Homo sapiens: one gene and its partners. The protein of the gene in region 4 purifies or fractionates together with the protein of the main gene of each other region. This does not show direct contact. Each region holds a gene or a part of one and is shown on either strand. Other genes may lie near its edges. The genes, in order: UFSP2, UTP20, NUP160, CLSTN2, NUP43, NUP85 and MYCBP2.

Region 1 (3,500 bases), on a different chromosome or scaffold from region 4:
GTTATGACAGAGTCATGACTTACGAAGCTCAGCTGAGTGACCGTTTCCTCTTTTTAATACTGTTCTCAGCTCTTTAAATGTTTGAACATAGCTACCATTTCTCAGCCTTTACTTCTTCTGGTTATTATAATCTTTTTTGTAACCTTTAAGCCACCTTAGAAATTTTTTTCAATATCCAGAGATCCATACATATGGTGTAAAAGTTAATTTCAAAATTTTTTAAATGACTGATTTTATGCAACATTAAATATTTATATCAATGATAAGTTTTGCATATTACTCACTCTACCAAAAACAGTGTCTGAAACAGCTTACCGATCATAACTGGAGTTCCTTCACTTTGGAAATGATTAGCCAGTTCCCGTCCTTGAGAGGCAATTTCTGAACCTTGGCTAGAAAGAAACCATTTTCTATCAGATGAACTACTTCCAACACTACGGTCAAATAATGAGCTAGGAGACAATGTTTCCTACTTTCTTGTTTTTTCGGGTGTTACTGAAAAAATATATAAATGTAAAAAAATTAAGTGTTAGGGAACTGAGAGCAATTAAACTGTGCAATTTAAAGCAACATAAACTCAAAATACTTAAGGCCACCAAGTGTGCTAGATAAGACGCTAAAAGACCTTGATTTTCTGCTTCTTGAACTGTATAAAGGAGGCCTGGGTTTTTAACATGAAGTTAAAACATCACCTTGGTGCTCAGGGAGTTCTTATGGATGGATTAATCAGAAGAATGAGTGTTAAGTCCTGGGTTCTTGCCTTCTTGCTGGTAGACTTCTTAGTCTGTATTTCCTCATCTTTAAATTGGGACCCAAAACGCTGACCTGTCTACATAACAGAGGAGAGTCTAGGCCTAAAATACATGTCTGTGAAATCAATGTGAAAACTGCAAAATGTTTTCAAGTGCAACATACTATTTTTAGGGAATCTCAGAATTTTTACTTTTGAAAAGAGAAAGATAGATGGGATAATGAAGGGAGGTATTTTTTGGGGGAAGGTGCCCGGTGGTGCTAAACCTTAGCTCTTGCTTAATGAGGAACGTATGTTTTAATGTACCAAAACTGTAACTTTTAAAAAAAGTTCTTCACTACTTAAGTCTGTCATTGTTTTATATTATTATTATTTTTTGAGATGGAGGCTCGCTCTGTTGCCCAGGCTGGAGTGGAGTGGCGCGATCTCAGCTCACTGCAACCTCCGCCTCTCAGGTTCAAGCGATTCTCCTTCCTCAGCCTCCTGAGTAGCTGGGATTACAGACGTGTGCCACCATGCCCGGCTCATTTTTATATTTTTAGTAGAGACAGGGTTTCACCATGTTGGCCAGGCTGGTGTCAAACTGCCAACCTCAGGTGATCCACCCACCTTGGCCTCCCAAAGTGCTGGGATTACAGGCGTGAGCCACTGTGCCCAGCCAGTCTGTCATTTTTTTACCACTGATTTCCATAACCACTGAGGAAAGGATAAAATTACATCTTTAACACATAAAAGATACAATGAGGACGATGTTACTGTAATTAACAATAGAAAATGTATTTTATTTGTTTTTTGGCTTTTCTTTTTTTTTTTTTTTTTTTTTAGAAAATGTATTTTTCTGTTTTTTTTTTTTGAAAGGGAGTCTCGCTTTGTTGCCTGTGCTGGAGTGCAGTGGCATGATCTTGGCTCACTGCAACCTCCACCTCCTGGGTTCAAGCGATTCTCCTGCCTCAGCCTCCCAAGTAGCTGGGATTACAGGCATGCGCCACCATACCCAGCTAATTTTTTTTGTATTTTTAGTAGAGACAGGGTTTTGCTCTGCTGGCCAGGCTGGTCTCAAACTCCTGACCTCAGGGGATCCACCCACCTCGGCCTCCCAAAGTGCTACGATTACAGGCGTGAGCCACTGCACCTGGCTAGAAAATGTATTTTAAAACATAAGCTCATACAATCAGGAGTCAGCTAGTTATGGTCATAGAAAATAATTAATTTATATTTTCTCATTTTAATATTAGAATTATGGTTAAGATCATTGGAAAAGACAAAATGAATACATTATTTGAACACATTACTAGATTATTAACGTTTTAGAAAGAAAAAGAGCAGGAGGTAAACAAAAAGGTCAGTCATAGTTCAACATTTGAGTTTTGCCTTTTAAGACTTTTTAAAAGATTGGAGCATAAAGAAACTGTTAATATAATTTTTATGACTTTACTCAACGTTAATATATTTTTAAGTTTTCCTCTTCTAGGCTAAAATTAGGCCTAAATAATACAAGTATACATTACATCACAAAGTTTATTCATAAAATCAGAGCCTTCCAAAAAAAAATGAAAAAAAATTAAGATTAAAAAATGAGATTTATAAAGCAATGAGTAATAAGGAAGAAGGAAAAGGAATAAAAAGAAATAAGGGAAGATACCATTTTTTCTATTATTTTAATTAAAATGACAGACTGTCACTTTGAAATGATTTATCTAATTTCTTAAAGTGTGCTTACCTGACAAACAGGATTTTTGACGTTATACCGATCAATTGGTTTAGTACCAGCTGCACCTCAATAGATCCAATCCATTGCCGCGATCCGACAAATGTTGCTGGTTTGTCCCCGGCATCGACTAGAGCCTTGATGTATTTAAAAATATAAAACATCCATACACAAGACAGCTATTAAAAACGATGTTTAGGGCATTTTCCCTGATTACCAGTACAAGAATTTTTTTTTCTTCAAAACAGAAATAAGTCTGCACCATGAGGTAACAAAAATTATCAATGGTATATTAAGGGCTAATGAAACATACAGTTGATTATAATTTAAAACGGTATGTTCTGTACCTGCTGAATTTCTCTGTGTGTTGGAATGGACCTCTCTGTGTATCCCTGATGTTTGAACCAAGAGCAGATAGTCTGCAGAGATCGATAAGCACAGCCCCAGCCATTGTCATCTATGCGATCCTGCATATAATGATGATAGCCATATATGCCCTGGACCACATAAATCTATATACAGAGAAGAAACACAGTAAAATATTAACTTAGGATAGAAGTACATATTCTATATATGCTCCCGAATTATGTTTAATGTTCTTAGAGTTAGACTGTTACTTTAGTTCCTTATAAAAATGCCTTCACAGATCTATGGTTTAACATTATACCTTCTTGGCTTTTTATTTGAGGTTCAAAGTCCTTACCACAGGGCCCAGCAGGACCTACCTTCTGGCCTCCTCTCCAATTTCATCTCCTAAACTTTTCCCTATTGCTCCCTCTACTTTCGGTTCCCATATACCAGGGGCAATATGACCTTGGAGCCTCATGGTTCTCTTGGCCTGGAACTCTCTTTTCCCAAATTAATTGTACAGCTTGCACTCTTACTTCACTCAGGTTTCCATTTAGATGTCAAAGGTCTTCCTTGACCATCCAGTCTACAAACGGCCCACTCATTCTCTCACTACCCCACCCCCTGCCTCACCTGTCATCTCTGTCCTCTTTATGTTTTTATTTTTCAAAGTATATCATGACTTGATATACT
Region 2 (3,007 bases), on a different chromosome or scaffold from region 4:
CTAAGCAGAAGTTCTTAATGAAGTAGGATTTATTACACGTTCTCTCTATAGATAGTTTTTGTGTCTTACTTTTGATATCCAATAGGGCAAGCCCCTCATCCTGTTCTACTTTTGTGAGAGTGTCATGGTTATTCTTGGCTTAATATCATCTTCCATATACATTTTAGAATTAGCTTGTTGGGTTAACGTGAAGAACTCTTGGGATTTTGCTCAGATACACATTTAACCAAAGGATCAACTTGGGAAAAAGAAGTAGCGTTTTATGATCCTGAATCTTCCTAGCCAAGAACATGGTTATAGTTCCGTTTGTGCAGATCTTTCTTACTGCCTTTTCCTAAAATTTTAGCAAGTACTATAGAGCAGTATTTGCAAATCTTTTGTTTGATTAATTGCTAACTTCTACATTTTTTCTTGCTATTTAAAAATGTATCCTTTTATTTACAAATTATATTTTAAACTCTGACTAGTGTCACATGCTTTTTAAACAGTGAAGACCCAGCAGTAGTATAGTGTTTTATTTATTTAAAAAATATGAGCATGATTACATTAAACTATATATTATACAATCTATCCAAAGTTTAACTAACTTAAATAATAAAACCTGGTTGAGCAGGGTGGCTCACACCTGTAATCCCAGCACTTTGGGAGGCCGAGGCAGGCGGATCAGTTGAGCCCAGGTGTTCGAGACCAGCCTGGCCAACATGGCGAAATCCTGTTTCTACAAAAAATACAAAATACAAAAAATTTGCCGGGCATAGTGTTGTGTGCCTAGGAGGCACAACTACTTGGGAGGCTGAGGTGAGAGGATCACTTGAACCCAGGTTGAGGCTGCAGTGAGCTGTGATGTCGTCACTGCACTCCACCTTGGGTGACAGAGTGAGACCTTGTCTCAAAAAAAAAAAAAAACGCCTCCCCCCTACCCCAGACAACCTACTGTAATTTCAGACTAGCAGAATATTCCAGAAAGTTCATGCTTGTATCAGCACAGGGAGACATTACTCCACCATTGCTAAATCTTTCAGGCTATGGCTTTTTTGTCTCTTGGCCTTATATCCTGGACGCAGGAACTCTATCTTTCTCTTCTTTGCTTCACTTTTATTTTTGTGTTTCTTCATTTTTTTCTTGGCAGCAATATCAGGATTAGTTACAAACTGGAAAAGAGAATAGAAATTTTATATTACTTTTAAAGTAAATGTTAAACCAATAAGAATCAAATACAGAAATAAATGTAAAAAACACATGCTCATTAAAGAAAATCTGAAGTCCCAGCTATAAAGTCCCCAACCGCTCAAACCCTTGATCCTCCCTAAGTGTAAGTGTGACACAAACATGCACACTTAGTAGTTATCAAGTCCAGTGAACATGCCATATTTTCAAAGAGCAAACTTACCTCCAGGGCCTTCCTCTTTTTCCGGAGTGCCCTTTTCTCATTAGCCTGTTTCTGTACAGAGGCAAAGGCTAATGAGAAGCTCTCAAGCCCAACCAGCTTTTTGAGTAATTCTATGATTTCCTGGGATAGATTCTTCAGCAAAGGATCTAATCACACACAAAGAGTAATGATCAGAGACAGGTAGGAAAGGACACATTTGAACATCAACAAAATCAACAATATGTACAACATTTATATCCAGCTACTGATCTGGCAAGAAACCCCAAATAAAACAAAACAAAATTTCAACTCTTGCAGCATTATCACTGTTACTTCAACATTAAACACTGATATAAAACTAGCCTCTATGTTCCTGGGATGGGGAAACCAGCAATGCTAGACATAGCACTCCAGCCACCACCTCACCCAGGATGCAATAAGAAATCAGAGAACATGAGGCCCACTTCCCAGCGGAAACCTGGCCCTGAAGACATTAAAGTAACTTGGGACCTTGACAGAAACGTTTTGAATTACCTCTGTTTACCTGTTGAGCTCTTGCAGATGGGGGGAAAAGTAAGAGATTCCCTCTCTAATCCATGATGGGTCACAGAGGCTTAGCTCTGCCCACAGTAACTTTTTTTTTTTTTTTTTTGGCGGGGGAGTGTCAAAAGCCTCCTTTGTGAAGTTGACAAAAAAGCCATTTCTCCCACCCTTCTCTGCCACTCACCCCTATATACAAATAACCCCCAATTTCAATTTCACAGGAGCTCAGGACATCTGTTCTAGATCACAAGCTTCTTGAAAACTTTCCTGCTGTTGAATCCCTAGTGCCTGGCAGATATTAGATGCTCATTAAATGTTGACTGGGTTGAACCAAAGCACACCTGAACCTGCTTTTGTCAGCAGCCTCAACCTTTACCATTGCTTTTTCCTTTGTAAGAGTGAGGAAACTTTCTCCCAAGGTTGTAGGACTGTAAAAGCTCTTGCTTTGACATTTGCTTCATTTGTTTTATTTTCAAACTCTGAACATTCACTTTACCTCCTTTCCTTCCTGCCCCCAGTTCCCTCTTTACCTGTTATTACCAACAATTAGAATAAGTGAGGGAAATGTATCAGGCAAGGAAAAAGAAGAAATGTTAAAATGATATTTTAAAACTATTTCATATAAAAATGATAATACTTATATTTTTGCCATATAATCTTTCTTTTGAGACAGTATCTCACTCTGTTGCCCAAGCAGGAGTGCAGTGGTGCAATCACGGCTCACTGAAGCCTCGACCTCACAGCCTCAAGAGATCCCCCCACCTCAGCCTCCTAAGTAGCTGCAATTATAGTTGTGCACCACCACACCCAGCTAATTTTTGTATCTTTTGTAGAGATGGGGTTTTGCCATGTTGCCCAGGCTGGTCTTGAACTTCTGGGCTCAAGTGATCCTCCCAACTTGGCTTCCCAAAGTGTGGGATTACAGGCGTGAGCCACTACGCCCAGCCTATAATTTTTAAGATGAGAATGTAATGACATTTTATTATTCATTATTATTCATTGTGCTATGAGGTTTAAAACTACCCTGAACCATAGTTTTCTTTGACTATTTAATCTATGTTGAGGATAAAGCATCATCTTTTATGTGAGAAACAT
Region 3 (3,500 bases), on a different chromosome or scaffold from region 4:
TATATATGCGCCTATACCGATGTTCCTCAACTTATGGTGGGTTTGTTTTCCAATAAACCCACTATCAGTTGAAAATATCATAGGTTGAAAATACATATAATACATCTAACCTAATGAACATCACGGCTTAGCCTAGCCTACTTAACCATGCTCAGGACACTTAACGTTAACCTATAAAGTTGGGCAAAATCATCTAACAGAAAGCCTACTTTATAATACACTGTTGAATATCTTGTGTAATTTATTGAATACTGTACTGCAACTGAAAAACTGAACGGTTGTATGAGTATTTTATTTATTTATTATTTATTTATTTATTTATTTTTGAGATGGAGTCTCGCTCTGTTGCCCAGGCTGGAGTGCAGTGGCATGATCTCGGCTCACTGCAACCTCTGCCTCCCAGGTTCAAGCGATTCTCCTGCCTCAGCCTCCTGAGTAGCTGGGATTACAGGTACGTGCCACTGCATCTGGCTAATTTCTGTATTTTTAGTAGAGACGGGGCTTTGCCATGTTGGCCAAACTGGTTTCGAACTCCTGACCTCAGGTGATCTGTCTGCCTCGGCCTCCCAAAGTGCTGGGATTATAGGCATGAGTCACTGTGCCCGGCCATCAGTATTTTAAAGTATGGTTTCTCATAAATGTTCATCACTTTCAAACCACTGTAAAGTTGAAAAATCGTAAGTCAAACCATTGTAAATTGGGGACCATTTGTATATGCCTACCTCAATTCCGAAGTATTGATGTCCTTTTCCCAATACAGCATCCACATATTCTGACACCAAATCCACAGCTTCTTCTAAAAGGTCATAGTTTAAGTATAAACGAAGCAATTCAGCAGCATCAACCTTCTGTGAAAAGTCAGTGATTAAGAATATGTACCTATTTCCCTCCTACTTGAGTACTGACCAAAGAATGTTGAGTGGCTGATTCCCTAACATTTGTATTTCTCAATATAATTAAACCAGTGGCTTGGTTTACTCATCTGTATCTTAGGATAAGAGCTGATAACAAATCTGGGGAGTTAGGAAAAAAAAAAAGTTAAATCCCTAAGAGCCGTTACCTCTAGGCAGTTTGGGAGGCCCTTATCTGTTAAATAGCCTTCTTCCCCTGTTTTATGACCTAAGACATATTTTAACTTCTCTCCACTTCAGTTTCCACAGTTGTAAAGTCAACAAACTTTTCCTGAACACTAAAGTGACAATATATTCACATAATAAGAAATATATGAATGACAAATGCAAAAGAAGTTCAAAGAATCACCAGCTTTAAATCTGAAGTCTCTATTTGGAAGAGCTCTATTAATTAAGCATGCTTTCTATATTCCCATTTGATCACAATCTTACCTTTACCATCTTAGCTGGCTTCCCTACTTTCCTATTTATTTATTTTTTTTGAGACAGAGTCTTGCTCTGTCGCCCAGGCTTGGGGGCAGTGGTGCAACCTCAGATCACTGTAACCTCTGCCTCCAGAGTAGCTGAGATTACAGGCACGCACCATCACATCCAGATAATTTTTGTATTTTTAGTGGAGATGGGGTTTCACCATGTTGGCCAGGCTGGTCTCGAATTCCTGACCTCAGGTGATCTGCCTGCCTTGGCCTCCCAAAGCGCTGGGTTTACAGGCGTGAGTCACCGTGCCCGGCCTCCTTTCTACCTTAAAAAAAAAACAAAAACAAAAACAAAAAAAACAAAACAAAACAAAACAAAAAAAACCAAAAAAAACTTTCCTGATTTTAAGCTTTAGATTTTCTCTTTCCTTATCCTACTAACGGTGGTTCAGATGCAGAAGTTCTCAAACTTTAGCATGCATCAAAATCAAATTAGGAGCTTCTTAAAATGTAGATTTCTGGCTCCTAGCCTGAGATAATCTGATTCTGTAAGTCTAGGATGAGGAATCTGTATTTTGAAGAAGACTGCCATCTGAATAATTCTGATGCAGACAGTCTAAGAACCCGTTTTTGATTTTTAATAGGTGAAACAGTGGGAGTGGAGAAGGAACCAATCGGAAACTGGTTGTGCTCAATTAGTTGTAAACAACACGGCACTCAGACCAGCCATAGTGTTATATTATTTGAAAAGTACTCCACCGACTCCTGTGACTTTTTTGAGGTATGAAGAGTAAATCCTGTGTCATGCATATGCTCATTGTTCTAAATATAAACTCATTGTTCAGTGAATATAATAGGAGTCATTAACCTAATTACTAACCTATGAAACTTCAAATCTAAATACACAGTAGTACTGTGGAAATGAATTTGAATTGTTCTTATGGTTTTAGCTATGATGAAAAGCTTCCCAAAGTACGTAAGTCAATATGTTCCCATAAGTTATCACCCCATCTTTTTCTTTTTCTTTATATATTTTTAAATTTAAATAGAGATGGGGTCTCCCTGTGTTGCCCAAGCTGGTCTCAAACTCCTGGGCTCAAGCCATCCTCCCCTGTTGGCCTACCAATGTGCGGGCATGACAGGTATGAGCCACTGCAATCAGTCCATATTTTTAATCATCTCATGAAGTTATCCAGAATGATAAAGAGTGGGTTCTTACTCTGTACAAGTTATAATCCGTTTACCTTGTAACTGTTTATAAGCCAATTAGGCAGAGGCACTCCATGAGACAAGAGCTTGTTGATTACACAGTGGTGATACAAGTTATTCTGGACTTTGTACCTCTCCAGGTAAGTGGATAATAGTCGCCATGCTTCATCTGTAGCACTTGAAAAAAACAAAAATGACTAATGAGTTTCAGATTCTTAATAGCTATTTAGAGTACCATTCAAAGCATGTATTTACAAGGAAAACTTTTTTTTCAGACAGGGTCTTGCTCTGTCACCCAGGCTAGAGTGGAGTGGTGTGATCTCAGCTCACTGCAGCCTCAGCCCCAGATTCTCCCATTTCAGCTTCCTAAATAGCTGGGAATACAGGCATGCACCACTATGCCCAGCTAATTTTGTTTATGTTTTGTAGAGACAAGGACTTGCTATGTTGTCCACGCTGGTATTAAACTCCAGAGCTAAAGTGATCCTCTGACCTTGTCCTCCCTAAGTGTTGGGATTACAGGCAGGAGTCACCATGCCCAGCCTTACAAGGAAAACTTTAGAAATTAACAACTGAATCAATAATATAGCTAAATGGGAACAAATATTATTTGGGCTAATGTGACTTATGGGGATAGCACTAGAAACTAGATGTCTTGGGTTCGTATATTCCTCTCCCACTAACGTATTTAGTATTTAGTAAACAAACATATTTAGTAAATGAACGTTATTTGTTTGGCTATTAATGCATAATTCATTTAACTCCTTTGTTTCTGCATTTCTAAAACAAGAAACTGGTTCAGAACACTGGTTCTCAAACCTGATCAAGCATTAGAATCATGCAGAAGTTCTAACTTAGAAGACTAGGGTGATTTCTCATAATCTGTATTTTAATAAGTTATTCTGATGTGCTAATTTAGGGGTTGAAAACTAATGTCAGAGAACTTCCAAATTCTAAAGTGCTA
Region 4 (3,500 bases):
AGTGTCTGTTAGGTGCATACCTATGAACATAAGTAGAATCCTGCACCAGGAGTGGAAGTTGGGGAGACTGGTCTTGTCTATACTTTTGAATGACTCTGAACAAGACATTGAATCACGAAGCCTCAGTTTACTCATCACAAAAATGTATCTAACAACAGATGTCTCAGTTACTTCACAGGATTTGTTGTGAGGTCCAAAGGAAGGAACAGATGCAGAAAACACTTTAGGAGGTGGGAAAAGCTTCACAAGGTTGTTCTCATGAATCAGAAAGTTGAAAAGACCTGCCATGGGTCCTCCCTGGGTGGAGGTCAGACTAGAGGACATTGGCAGTAGTCCCCTTCTTAAGCTGTTTTGATGACACAAAGAAAAGGCTGAGATTCTGAACTATTTTTTTTTAACATAAATGCCACTTAACTAGGGACCAGCTCTGTGCCTGTGCCAAACCAATTGGTGTGAGCTTGAGGAGGAGTGAAGGATGGGGACAGAGCATACACATTGATGACAAAGAGGAATCAGACATTCGAAACAAACATGTTCTCAGAGCTTCGTGGAAATTCTGTCAAGGCCCTAATTCTTGCCTGCTATTCTCTTGGCCACAAAAGATCACAGACCAGTTACTATAGAAACAATTCTCTTCACAGGTTGTGCATGTTAGGATGGAGATGGAAAAGATTTCCTTATCAAAAAAAGAAAGAAATTAGGTTTTCAGATATATTTGCCCTCTATCTAAAGTGTTCCTCCTTTTATGAGCAGAAGAAAGAAGAAGCTGCAATGATTGCAAATATGCTTCTAATTCCTTGCAGTTAAATTTCAAACTTTCATTGTAGACTTGGTGGAGCTCGTGCGTTTCTAATACATGCAGAAAGCGTGTATTTTCTCAAGAGGGAAGATAGGAGATAAGGGACCATAAGGCTGAGTGGTGAGAGCCTTGCCAACCTCAGGGTCCCCTCTGTCCTGGGGGAGCCCAGCCACCCCCACTCCACCCACCATGAAGCCTACGTTTGACCTCATTAGCATTTCCATCTGCTTTCTGGCTCTAGGCTTGTTGTGACTGTCCTTGTTGTGTGTTGTGTTGTGTCCTTGTTGTCCTTGTTGTGACTGTCCTTGTTGTGTTGTCCTGGGGCAGTGCCTGTGTGGAATGCCTCCTGGGCCCTGTGGTTCTGTTTGCTGAGTGCCCCTGGCAGGGTAGCTGCATGGTTGCAGCAGGTGCCCAGACAGGCAGGCTCAGATAGCTCTGATGGGGGATCAGACCCTGCTTGTGGCCAAGGACCTATTCTTGGTTTGGGACTTTTCTTATAAGCTTATATGGCCTCAGAAAGAAGCAAGGGGAAAGGCTCTCCAAGCTGGGGAACTAGATAGACAGAGAGAGAGAGAGAGAGAGAATGTGTGTACCTTTCCCTGTAAACTTAGTTCTGCCTCAACAAGGACTTTCCTTTAAACTGTTAAGCACTAAGACCTTACGTGTGTGAAGTTCAACCACCCTCCTTGTATGAAGCAACCTGGAGTCAGCATAGGAGAACCTACTGGTCTGTGTGGAGGAGACGCACAGTGAGTTGGAACCCCAGGGCCTTGGGGACTCTGAGCCTGGGGAGGTGAGTGACACAAAGGTGGGCCTTCTTCCCTGCAGGAAAAAACAAAGGCAAACTCTGCAGACAGGTAGTCAGGATGCTGGGGAACTTAGGGCAGAAGTGGAGGCTACAGGACAAAGTCTACCCTGAAGTCCTCACTGATGGCCATGCTGGGCTTCTTGGAACTTCCCCATGGATGAAACACAGGGAGTGCCCAAGGCTTAAAGGGTGGGCTCCAGGAAGCTGGAGAAGGCCTTCCCAGACATGTCACAGACATCAGAGGTGAGGTATGATAGACATGGGCATACACTGGGTCAGGGTTTACAAAAGGGACATGTGGGCCAGGCAGCAGACCCCTGGGCACTAGTAGGGGAGGGTGGAGTCATCCCACTCCAGCTGGGCTTGCCTGGCTCCATTCTGCCCATGTCTGCCTCTGCCCATCCCTTCCTCCTCCTCCTCCTCTTCGCTGTCGTCAGAGCCACTGCTGGAGCTCATTTCTTCCTCGGCTTCTTCCTCCTCTTCTCCCTCAGTCTCATCTTCCCCATGCCCTGGTCCTTCATGTTTCTGGATATCAAGGAGAAAAAGCAAATGCTCATCAGGGGCTGAACAGAGGCCATTTTGGAGCTTATGTCTCTCCATCCATTAAGGAAACATTTACGGCCCCTTGGAATTTCTTCTTTTAGTGCAAAACTCTTCAGCCTGGAGACAGACTTCCTGGAAGGGAAGTCTTCTGGTAAAAAGGAAGCTAGAAGGTTCAAGGCAAAAGCCTGAAATAGCAAATTCCAAGGCATGAACTCAAGGTAGACTGTTGGGTATAAATGATGGGCTGGACATTTTAGCCAATCCTATCCATCATTTACTGAACCTTTCAGGCCAAGGCTTGTTTTCAGGCATTTCTGGAGCTTATTTAAATGGAGCTGTCCAAGCCTTAGTGTTTGCTTCTCAGTGAGAGGATGACATTTGATCTTGTGTCTCTTTTCCAAGTGTGCATGCAATGTCCCTGGGAGCAGAAGGCATTCTAAGCAAAGACTCAGGTATGCTTCCCCTCAAAAATATTCCTTTGGAAAGGACAAATTTATTGGTCCTCACTTTCCATGCTTGCTGCTCACCCCCTGACTTGTGTCCTCAGGCTGTACCCCTTCCTTTCCAGTCCAATTCCCCCTCCCTCCAGCTTTTGGATAATTCCAGCAAAATTTCATTTCTGGATTTATGTTCTGCATTGATGAACCAGGTCATAAAAGTTGTTTCTCCTTGCTTGGCTACCCAACCCCTCCCCTTACACTTCTTAGGAATTGTCTTTTACCTCCTACCTTCTACCTTACCCCAAATCCTACCCACTCTTCAAGGTCTCCCCTAGGCCAACCTCCTCCAAGGAATCTTCCCTGATTGTTGCAGTCCTGAAGGCTTTTCCTCCTCAAGGTCATTGACTTTTGACATCACAAGGTTGGCCCTTGTTAGGCACACTCTTGCCTTGTCCTCACACTGCTCCAGGTATAGTGGTCTTGTTTTCTACACTCAAGGCTCAGCTCTTTGAAGGTGGAAATTCTGGAGTCTGTATAGCACTGAGCTCAGCATTTTACCTACAGCACATGCTTGGAGGAACTGAGCCACATCAGCACACTGGCTTTGGAATTGGAGTGTGAGGCTAGCCGAGGTGGAAACTGGGGACCAGGCTGGGGTAATCATCTTCCCCTACCTTTTCTAAGCCTGTGTCTATCATCAACCAGAACCCATGGGCAAAGGGCATGATGTAGAGGGCTTCCTTTGACACTCATGGATAGATTCTGGGGGCTGTTGGCTAACTGGAAAGATACAGACTTCAGAATCAGATAACCTTAAATTTGACTATTGGCTGTGTTAATTTGAGTATGTTACTTCTTTTCTTAGTTGGTTTCCACCTTGGTAAATGAAGATGATAACTCCTATTTTATT
Region 5 (3,500 bases), on a different chromosome or scaffold from region 4:
ATCTCAGCACTTCGGGAGGCCGAGGTGGGCAGACCACTTGAGCCCAGGAGTTTGACACCAGCCTGGGCAACATGGTGAAACCTCGTTTCTACAAAAATTAGCTGGGCATGGTGGTGTGCATCTGTAGTCCCACATCCCTGGAAGGCTGAGGTGGGAGGATCGCTTGAACCTGGGAGGCAGAGGTTGCAATGAGCTGGGATCATGCCACTGCACTCCAGCCTGGGTGACAGAGCAAGACCCTGTCTCAAAAAAAAAAAAAAAAAAAAAAAAAGTAATGCAACTTAACTCAGAAATGAAAATCATAATAAACAACACAAAAGGCCAGGTACAGTGGCTCACGCCTGTAATCCCAGCACTTTGGGAGGCCGAGGCAGGCGAATGACAAAGTCAAGAAATCAAGACCATCCTGGCCAACATGTTGAAAGCCTGTCTCTACTAAAAATACAAAAATTAGGTGGGTGTGGTGGCGTGCGCCTGTAGTCCCAGCTCCTCGGGAGGCTGAGGCTGGAGAATCGCGTGAACCCAGGAGGTGGAGGTTGCAGTGAGCTGAGGTCGTGCCATTGCACTCCAGCCTGGTGACAGAGCGTGACTCCATCTAAACAAACAAACAAACAAAACACACACATACAAAATGGATTCATGGGCTCAATTCCTAGAGATTCTGATTTAAAAGGTCTAGAGTGGTCGACAGTTAAAAAATTTCCTCAGAGAAGTCTGGCTGAAGCATAGTTCAGAACCAATACACTTAGTTTTCCACCTAAAAGATGTAACTTCTGTGATTTTGCATTACAGACTCTTTGCAATCTGGCCCCAGCTTACTTCTCTCTTGCTTCATCTTTCATCTCTCCTAAATAAATATCTAAAGTCGGGTCAAACTATACTTTTTGTCATTCTCTGAATGTCTTTATCCTGCCTCTGGCCTATTCCCTTTGTCTAGCACGCCATCTTTTAGTATTACTTATGGTCTAGAACCTAGAAAAACTATTAATTACTACCTGCTTCCAGATGTTTTATCTGATAATGCCCTCTCACCAAAAAAAAAAAGGTTTCTGTTTCCTCTAGTCAGTCATTCATACTGGTCTCATCAACATACTGTCTTGACAAAGGGATCCTGCCTTGCGTTGTGTGTGCACATGTGTACATATATTTTATATTTTTTTGAGACAGAGTCTTGCTCTGTCACCCAGGCTGGAGTGCGGTGGCATGATCTCGGCTCACTGCAGCCTCTCAGTCTCTCAGGTTCAAGCGATTCTCATGCCTCAGCCTCCCAAGCAGCTGGGATTACAGGCCTGTGCCACCATGCCCAGCTAATTTTTGTATTTTTAGTAGAGATGGGGTTTTGCAATATTGGTCAGGCTGGTCTCAAACTCTTGGCCTCAAATGATCTGCTCGCCTTTGCCTCCTAAGGTGCTGGGATTATAGGCGTCAGCCACTGTACCCGGCCATATATTTTTACATCCCTCCATCACTTAACATTGTGTTTACTTTTTTTTTTTAGATGAAGTCTCTCTCTGTCACAAGGCTAGCGTGCAGTGGTGTAATCTTGGCTCACTGCAACCTCTGCCTCCCGGGTTTAAGTGATTCTCCTGCCTCAGCCTCCCGAGTAGCTGGGACTACAGATGCACACCACCTCACCCAGCTTATTTTTGTTATTTTCAGTAGAGACGGATTTTCACCACGTTGGCCAGGATGATCTTGATCGCTTGACCTTGTGATCCGCCTGCATCACCCTCCCAAAGTGCTGGGGTAACAGGCATGAGCCACCGTGCCTGGCAGTATTTACTTAGTATATGGTAAGTGCTCAATTACTCTGATGGATGAAAGGAGTACAATGATTTTTCTTTTTTTGAAACAGGGTCTCCCTCTGTCACCCAGGTGGGACTGCAGAGTGCCATCATAGCTCACCACAACCTCCACCTCTCAGGTTCAAGCGATTCTCCTGCCTCAGCCTCCTGAGTAGCTGGGATTACAGGCATGCGCCACCACGCCTGGCTAACTTTTCTTTTTTTTTTTTTAAACAGAGTTTCACTTTTGTTGCCCTGGCTGGAGTGCAATGGTGCGATCTCTGCTCACTGCAACCTCCGCCTCCCAGGTTCAAGCGATTCTCCTGCCTCAGCCTCCCAAGTAGCTGGGATTACAGGCATGTGCCACCATGCCCAGCAAATTCTGTAGTTTTAGTAGAGACGGTGTTTCTCCATGTTGGTCAGGCTGGTCTCGGACTCCCGACCTCAGGTGATCCACCTGCCTCGGCCTCCCAAAGTGCTGCAATTGCCGGGGTGAGCCACCACACCCAGCCTAACTTTTGTATTTTTAGAAGAGACTAGGTTTCGCCATGTTGGCCAGGCTGGGATTTTTCTTACCTATGGTTCTTACAGCTTCCTTGTGATCAGCTCTGAAGAGATTTATTCGACCATCCTCTCCAACTGTAACGATTTCTGGGTTGTTGCACACAACACCTGTACATGGTGCACTGCTATAGGAAGGACTGCCAGGGCCTGTGTGGTAGTGAGCTGTAGTCCACTGCTGGTTGACTGACAGAGTCTAGGCATCAGAAATGAGGATACTATTAAAGCAAAGTACTAAGGAATTAGCACTTCTTCCCAACAAGAGTATCTTTAAATTCTGACTCACACCCTTCTACAAGAATAAATCTCTCCTTTTTCCTTTAGAATAATGAAATCTAGAAACTACTGCCATCAAAGTTCTATATACACTGAATTAGATACAAAAGGAATATTGTTTAATAATGCCCCACATTTATCTCAAACTACAGTAATGACTTTTAGGGATCAAGCAGTTGGATGTTCAAAGGCAACTCTTTGTATTCTTATGGGAATTAACCTACATCTAAAATATACATATCTGGCCCACGGCTGTCGCTCATGCCTGTAATCCTAGCACTTTGGGAGGCCAAGGCAGGCAGATCATCTGAGATCAGGGGTTCGAGACCAGCCTGGCCAATATGGCAAAATCCCGTCTCTACTAAAAATACAAAAATTTGCTAGGTGTGGTGGCACGCGCCTGTAATCCCAGCTACTTGAAAGGCTGAGGTGTGAGAATTGCTTGAACCAGAGAGATGCAGGTTGCAGTGAGCAGAGATCGCACCACTGCACTCCAGCCTGGGTGACAGAGAGAGACTCTGTCTCAAAAAAAAAAATAAATAAATAAAATAAAATAAAATAAATAAAATATTAATCTCTATAGCTTTTTCTAAATGACTCAAAAAAACCCTTAACATGAACTGGGACTTATATTAACTAGGCATGTCTATTAGAAAAGGTTACCTTTGGCTGGGCGCGGTGGCTCACACCTGTAATCCCAGCACTTTGGGAGGCCGAAGAGGGCTGATCACCTGAGGTCAGGTGAGATCAGCCTGACCAACATGGAGAAACCCCGTCTCTACTAAAAATATAAAATTAGCCGGGCGTGGTGGCACGTGCCTGTAATCCCAGCTACTTGGGAGGCTGAGGCAGGAGAATCACTTGAACTCAGAAGGTGGA
Region 6 (3,500 bases), on a different chromosome or scaffold from region 4:
ATCGGTTATATATTGATTGGTTGAACAAAATATGACCAGAGGCTTGCAGGAACCTAACCCTGTATTTCCCCTAGGAGCAATGGTTCAATATTCACTAATTCAGTATTCAAGGCACTGCACTCCAGCCTGGGCAACAAGAGCAAAACTCTATCTCAAAAAAAAAAAAAAAAAAAAAAAAAAAAATCACAAATATATAAACATATACATACTGATAACTCCCAACTTTTCCTCTCTAGCCCAAACTTCCTTGTCTGAATTCCAGCTTTGTATATCCAAGTGCCTAGTCAACATCTCCACTTAGATCTTGAATAGGCATCTTAAAACGTAACATGTCGGACAGGCATGGTGCCTCACGCCTGTAATCCCAACACTTTGGGAAGCCAAGGAGGGTGGATTGCTTGGGCCCAGGAGTTTGAGACCAGCCTGGACAACATGGCAAAACCCCGTCTCCACTACAAATACAAAAATTAGTTGGACATGGTGGCACGCCTTTGTAGTCCTGGCTACTTGGGAGGCTTAGGAGGGGAGGATCACCTGAGCTTAGGCGGTCAAGGCTGCAGTGAGCTGTAATCTGACCACTGCACTCCAACATGGGCAACAGAGACTTTGTCTCAAAACAAACAAACAAACAAACAAAACAAAACACACACACACACGAGAGAAACATGTCTAAAATTAAATACCAGTTTGCCTCCAATTCACCAACCTTATCCTCCCACATTCTTCTATTTCTTGCATGCCCACATCAAATCAATCCATCAGCAAACCCCATCAACTCTCTTCAAACATATCTAGCCTACACCACCACCATCTTTTACCTGGCTTAGTACAGCAGAATCCAGACTGGCCTGTTTCCATCCTTGCTGTAGTCTCAACATGGCAGCCAGGACAGCCTTTGGGAACCTAAGTAAGATCTCAGGCTTCCTCTGCTCAGCTCTCCAATGCCCCCTCACCCCATATGGCTTAGAAGTAAAAGACTAGCTTTTACTGTGCATCAACCGTGTCAACTACTTCACCCACATTTATGTCCTTTAACTAATTTAATGATCACAACAGCCCCATGGGACAGGTATTATTATCTCCACTGGACAGATGAGGACCCTTAAGGCCGTTAAGTAGCTCACTCAAGATCTCACACCTAGTGACCGGGCACAGTGGCTCACACCTGTAATCCCAATACTTTGGGAGGCCAAGGCAACAGGACTGCTTGAGGCCAGGAGTTCAAAAAATAAAAAAATTTGGCTGGGCATGGTGGCTCAAGCCTGTAATCCCAGCACTTTGGGAGGCTGAGGCAGGCGGATCACTTGAGGTCAGGAGTTCGAGACCAGCCTGGCCAAAACAGCAAAACCCCATCTCTACTAAAAATAAAAAAATGAGCCAGGCAGGATGGCGAGAGCCTATAATCCCAGCTGAGATCGCCCCACTGCACTCTGGCCTGGGCAACAGAGTGAGACTCTGCCTCAAAAAATAAATAAATAAAAATAAAAAATAATTGGGTTAGCCGGGCGTGGCGGCTCACGCCTGTAAACCCACCACTTTGGGAGGCCAAGGCAGGCAGATCACAAGGTCAGATCGAGACCATCCTGGCTAACATGGTGAAATCCCGTCTCTACTAAACAAAATTAAAAAATTAGCCAGGCGTGGTGGCAGGCGCCCGTGGTCCCAGCTACTCGGGAGGCTGAGGCAGGAGAATGGCATGAACCCGGGAGGCGGAGCTTGCAGCGAGCCGAGATCGTGCCACTGCACTCCAGCCTGGGCAATAGAGCGAGACTCCAGCTAAAAAAAAAAAAAAAAAAAAAATTGGGATGGTGGGATGGAGGGAGGCAGGCAAATCACTTGAGGTCAGGAGTTCAAGACCAGCCTGACCAACATGATGAAACCCCATCTCTACTAAAAATACAAAAAACAAAACAAAACAAAACAAAAACCAGCTGGGCATCATGGCGTATACCTATAATCCCAGCTACTTGGTAGACTGAGACAGAACTGCTTGAACCAGGGAGGCAGAGGTTGCAGTGAACTGAGATAGCGCCACTGCACTCCAGCCTGGGCAACAGAGAAAGACGCCATCTCAAAAAATAAATAAATAAATAAAAACTTTAGCTGGTGGTGGTAACACATGTCTGTGGTCCCAGCTACTTGGGAGGCTAAAGTAGGAGGACCACTGGAGACCTGGAGGCCAAGGCTACAGTGACTGGTGATTGTGCACTGCAGCCTGGGGAACACAGTGAAACTGTATTTAAAAAAAAAAAAAAAGGCCAGGCATGGTGGCTCATGCTGGTAATCCCAGCACTTTGGGAGGCCAAGGTGGGTGAATCACAAGGTCAGGAGTTTGAGACCAGCCTGGCCAATATGGTAAAACCCCATCCCTACTAAAAATACAAAAATTAGCTGGGCATGGTGACGCGCGCCTGTAGTCCCAGCTACTCAGGAGGCTGAGGCAGAAGAATCACTTGAACCCCGGAGGCAGAGGTCGCAGTGAGCTGAGATGGCGCCACTGCACTCCAGCCTAGGTGACAGAGAGAGACTCTGTCTCAAAAAAGGAAAAAAACCCACCTCACAGCTAGTAAAAGGCAGAGCTGGAATGCTAACCCAGGCAGTGTGGCACCACAGACCATGTTGTTAGTCACCCTGCTATGTAGGCTGCAAAAAGCTAAAGTCTCAGTGACAGCCCAGGGGGCTGTCTCAGACCTGGCCTGGTATCGCTCTGTCTTTATCTCCCCAGCTCATCCCTCCCACCTACCCCTACATAGCACAGCCCCTCCTGCCCCACCCTGGCTCTAGAACACAGCATCTACAGGCCCTGCTATCTGGAATGCTTTCTTCAGCCTAGCTCTCCTCACCTCCTTCAGGTCTCACCTCCAATCTCTCATGAGGGAGGCCTTCTTCGATGCCCCTCCAGCACTTGCAGCCTCCCTCCCTTCTTGGCACCTTGGCAGAGCATTTCACTATGTGCCAGGATACATGGTACTAGCCTATGTGTTGCTGTTCTTTCTCCACACACAGGATATAAACTCCATAAAGGCAGGAATCTTTGCCTGTTTTAGTCATGGTGTCTCCTTGGTGCCTTGCAAATAGTAGGGACTCAATAAATACTCAGTGAATGACCAGGAATGGTGGCTCACACTTGCAGTTCCAACACTTTGGGAGGCCAAGGTGGAAGGATTGCTTGAGCCCAGGAGTTCAAGACCAGCCTGGGTAATACAGTGAAACCTCACCTCTACAAAAAATAAAACTAGCCAGGCGTAGTGGTGTGCGCCTGTAGTCCCAGCCACTCAGGAGGCTGAGGTGGGAGGATTGCTTGAGCCCAGGAAATCAAAGGTGCATTGTGCCATGATCGCATCACTGCACTCCCGCCCAGGCCGCAAAGCGAAACCCTGTCTCTAAACGACAACAACAAACCTTAGCGAATCAATCAGAGACTCAAACATTTGGCCCACTACTTCCTGTGAGCCACCGTGCCGGGCCGAATTCCAGGTTTTCTTTTCTTTTCTTTTTTT
Region 7 (3,500 bases), on a different chromosome or scaffold from region 4:
CTCCCAAAGTGCTGGGATTACAGGCATGAGCCACTGCGCCCGGCCTCAATCAATGTTTATTTGACAAATATATTCCCCATCTTAATGTCTGGATACATTCAATACTTTAAAAGCTGAGGCAACCTGAATGGCTGGTGCTGCCGAGAGCGCTTCGGTGAAACATATCATGCACATGTCATCGGCGTCTTGCTTCAGGCTTGTGGCACTTTTGTCACAGCCGTGTAGACAGGGCAGACAGTGCTCTTCGTTTTTAACACCCCCGCATGGATGGCCACAAGGATGCGTCTTACTACAGGCTATCTTAGCGTATTCCTGTTAAAGATGAATTACAATGTTACACAAGTATGTAAAAAAGCACACATTCTGGTAATTTTCCTTATTATATAAATTTCCAAAGATTACTTTCCCACAGGAAGTATCTATGCAGGCCAAGTAACAACAAAGTAAAGTTATTTCTAATCTTTGTTTGAATATAAATTAGGCTTCTTAACAAAGTTTTTTTTTTTTGATGCGATTTTTAAAAAATGCCACTCTCTATAAAGGGAATGCTGATAAGTGAATTATAATTTCATATTTGTCATCATGCACAGCTATAAAGCAAAAAGTTCCTGGCTGGGAGTCGTGGCTTACACCTGTAATCCCAGCACTTTGGGAGGCTGAGGTGGGCAGATCACGAGATCAGGAGTTTGAGACCAGCCTGACCAATATGGTGAAACCCCATCTCTACTAAAAATACAAAAATTAACCAGGCATGGTGGCGCGCGCCTGTAATCCCAGCTACTTAGGAAGCTGAGGCAGGAGAATCGCTTGAACCCGGGAGGCGGAGGTTGCAGTGAGCCGAGATCGTGCCACTGTACTCCAGCCTGGGCGACACAGCCAGACTCCGTCTCAAAAAAATAAAAAATAAAAAAAGTTCCCCAATGTATAATTTCCCAGTCACCACTCTCCGCATCACCAAAATGCAGATTTTTTTTTTTTTTAAAAAGGTACCTTTGACTCTCTGAGCATATCCACATTCTTATTAATTGAGAAACCAAAAACATTTGGACAACATAGAATATGTTTATATATGTTCAGGATTAAAGAACTCTTAGATGTTGAAAATGTATTTTAAGGAAATAAGTGAATAATGTCTGTAAGAGATAAAGGAAATACAGTTCATAAATTTTTAACTGTTTCTAGTACAAAAGTAGATATTAAATACATATGATCATGGTAACTGAGAAACATACAAAAAGAGTGTGGTTTGGGCTTGAGAGCCTTATTTGACCCATTCTTCAACTTTGGTAAGGCATTTGATGCTTCACATAGGTAATACACTCATTTAGGAAGCTGGAGTGACGCTGAGCTAAAACTCTTTTCTGTATGAAGTAAAGGTGTCACAGGGGAACATGGACAATGGGATGGCCTGTGTCACTATATACTCACCTGGCAATCTGCATCAGAACAAACACTGCCAACAGCAGATAACTCTGTTCCACTCCTGGAACCACAGAAGCGACATGCTTCTGAGCTACTCGTGGTGGGTTTGCCTAGGTTCAAGCAGAAAAATAAAAATCCTTCTTATGGATGTTTTCTAGATATGTTAACAGAACTAAATTTTAAAAAGCAAACTAGGTTTGTATAAGTTGCTATCCTTGGGAAATCAGCCTGACAGTTTTAGAACGGAAGGTTTCTAAGTTGTCCTAATTATAAAGTAAATAATGACACACAAAAAAAGAAATTAAAGACCTATCTGAAGCCAAATACACTCTCGACTAATATTTTTTTTCAGTGAAAGAAACAGACTAGACTTCTAGTCAAGTTACCAGACTGAGCAGCTGTTACAAGCCCCTGACTCCAAATGCACAATACCATAAAAAATATGATAACCAAAAATTAAATAAAAATACACAGAAGTTAGGGAAATCTTTAACTATATATAACAAAATTATAAGGCATGGTATAAAGCCTATCATCAGAGTATGAAACTTGAAAAACAGAATTCCTACCTCAGGAACTCTGCAATTTGAAAAGGAATTTAAATATGTTTGAAATACTTAAAGAAGAAACAGAATCAATAAAACAAGAACAGAGCAATAAGAAAAAGAACGTGAAGATTTGAAAATTACAGACCAAGCTGATTTTTAAACACAGATATAAAAATCTAACTATAATTAATATCAATATATTGAATTCAGCAATATTTACAGAAAAATCTATTTAAAAAGGATGGTTTACAAGGATGGTTTGACATTAGAACATTTATTAATGCAGTATACAGCACTGACAGATTATAGGAGGAAGAAATCAACTATGAGAAAAGAAGGTCATGCTCTTGCAGCATGCAAAGTCACCCTAGAATTAAATTGATTCGGATTTACACCTAACTCCAACACTGGAAGTTCGTGTCAGTCAAATGGCAGACTGCAGATGTGCTGAAAACTGAGAATTTGTAAGATTCAACATAACTTTGAACTAGGAATATACAAGATTTACTTTAGAAAAGCAGCAAAATGAAAACTATGTTTTAGAGATAAAAATACATTTAACATACATAGGTTACCTTTTGTTTTATGTCTATTCATTTTTGTTAATTATTTTATTGCTATCAATGGAAACAGTACCATTCACAACACCTTCAGAAGCATTAGGTCTACAAAAACCTCTAAATATCATAAAATCATACAACCTTATAATAAATAGAGATCTTAGTGATCATCTAGTGCAGCAATTTTTATTGTGGGGCAACAACTAGCAGAACTAGAAGGGAATTATCAATAGAAATGTATTTTATCTATGGAGCCCCATTAGTTGTGATCCTCTCACTTTATAAATGAAGTCAATGAGTTCCAGAGGTTAAGTGACTTGCTCGACACCACACAGCTAGTTAGTGGCAAATCAGGTTTCTTGACTTTTGGTCTAATGCTCTCTTCACCATAGAACACTCTATATATTTAGTAAATATATAGATCAATGATGTCATAATTAAACATCAGAATATCACTCAAAATTATTCACAGTTTAATCAGTTGGCACGGTTTAATCTTTTTTTGTGGGTTTTAAAGGCATGGCTCAATCTTTAAACCTTTTACCTGTGTGTTCTCGGAATTCCACCATTGCCTTCATTGTTTTAGAATCTGCCAGTGCCATCAACCAGAACAATTTGGTTCTACCACAACCTTCATGAAGGTCAACCTTTATAGCTTCTTCTTCTTCTTTGAAGACCTATTATTTCATTAAAGAACAGGGAAAAATATGCTTATTTATCACTCTGAAAGGGAGAGTATAAAATTTAATTATTCAATAATAATAATGGCTTTCATTTAAGCACTCTAAGAAGTTTTGAATATTTCCAATCTTCTCTTTAATCTTCACAGCAGTCCCTTTTTTATAAATGGAGAAATTAAGTGTTTCTAAGGATAAAACAACTTGCTATTTATAGATGGTAAGCGAGACAGCTGTGAACTCAACCAAGGTCTTTGATTCCAAAGTCCACTTTTTCCCCCTACTACACAAAG

The links.
Region 1: the proteins of CLSTN2 (region 4) and UFSP2 purify together in Homo sapiens (affinity purification with mass spectrometry; one large-scale study listed by BioGRID and IntAct). This does not show direct contact.
Region 2: the proteins of CLSTN2 (region 4) and UTP20 purify together in Homo sapiens (affinity purification with mass spectrometry; one large-scale study listed by BioGRID and IntAct). This does not show direct contact.
Region 3: the proteins of CLSTN2 (region 4) and NUP160 purify together in Homo sapiens (affinity purification with mass spectrometry; one large-scale study listed by BioGRID and IntAct). This does not show direct contact.
Region 5: the proteins of CLSTN2 (region 4) and NUP43 purify together in Homo sapiens (affinity purification with mass spectrometry; one large-scale study listed by BioGRID and IntAct). This does not show direct contact.
Region 6: the proteins of CLSTN2 (region 4) and NUP85 purify together in Homo sapiens (affinity purification with mass spectrometry; one large-scale study listed by BioGRID and IntAct). This does not show direct contact.
Region 7: the proteins of CLSTN2 (region 4) and MYCBP2 purify together in Homo sapiens (affinity purification with mass spectrometry; one large-scale study listed by BioGRID and IntAct). This does not show direct contact.

Annotation. Positions count from the first base shown.
Region 1 is NC_000004.12:185,405,465-185,408,964, forward strand, and holds part of UFSP2 (ufm1-specific protease 2), read right to left. Parts: exon of another isoform or gene 2,972-3,500; coding exon 2,807-2,971; intron 2,597-2,806; coding exon 2,472-2,596; intron 496-2,471; exon of another isoform or gene 393-495; coding exon 316-392; intron 1-315. UniProt on the Homo sapiens protein: Thiol-dependent isopeptidase that specifically cleaves UFM1, a ubiquitin-like modifier protein, from conjugated proteins, such as CD274/PD-L1, CYB5R3, DDRGK1, MRE11, RPL26/uL24, TRIP4 and RPL26/uL24.
Region 2 is NC_000012.12:101,384,112-101,387,118, reverse strand, and holds the end of UTP20 (small subunit processome component 20 homolog), read right to left. Parts: intron 1,537-3,007; coding exon 1,391-1,536; intron 1,152-1,390; coding exon 996-1,151; 3' UTR 501-995; downstream 1-500. UniProt on the Homo sapiens protein: Part of the small subunit (SSU) processome, first precursor of the small eukaryotic ribosomal subunit.
Region 3 is NC_000011.10:47,782,351-47,785,850, forward strand, and holds part of NUP160 (nuclear pore complex protein Nup160), read right to left. Parts: intron 2,714-3,500; coding exon 2,572-2,713; intron 849-2,571; coding exon 723-848; intron 1-722. UniProt on the Homo sapiens protein: Functions as a component of the nuclear pore complex (NPC). Involved in poly(A)+ RNA transport.
Region 4 is NC_000003.12:140,564,685-140,568,184, reverse strand, and holds part of CLSTN2 (calsyntenin-2 precursor), read right to left. Parts: intron 2,133-3,500; coding exon 1,932-2,132; 3' UTR 1-1,931. UniProt on the Homo sapiens protein: Postsynaptic adhesion molecule that binds to presynaptic neurexins to mediate synapse formation, and which is involved in learning and memory.
Region 5 is NC_000006.12:149,740,030-149,743,529, forward strand, and holds part of NUP43 (nucleoporin Nup43), read right to left. Parts: intron 2,542-3,500; coding exon 2,361-2,541; intron 1-2,360. UniProt on the Homo sapiens protein: Component of the Nup107-160 subcomplex of the nuclear pore complex (NPC). The Nup107-160 subcomplex is required for the assembly of a functional NPC.
Region 6 is NC_000017.11:75,219,179-75,222,678, reverse strand, and holds part of NUP85 (nuclear pore complex protein Nup85), read right to left. Parts: intron 1-3,500. UniProt on the Homo sapiens protein: Essential component of the nuclear pore complex (NPC) that seems to be required for NPC assembly and maintenance. As part of the NPC Nup107-160 subcomplex plays a role in RNA export and in tethering NUP96/Nup98 and NUP153 to the nucleus.
Region 7 is NC_000013.11:77,058,095-77,061,594, forward strand, and holds part of MYCBP2 (E3 ubiquitin-protein ligase MYCBP2), read right to left. Parts: intron 3,208-3,500; coding exon 3,075-3,207; intron 1,533-3,074; coding exon 1,429-1,532; intron 313-1,428; coding exon 124-312; intron 1-123. UniProt on the Homo sapiens protein: Atypical E3 ubiquitin-protein ligase which specifically mediates ubiquitination of threonine and serine residues on target proteins, instead of ubiquitinating lysine residues.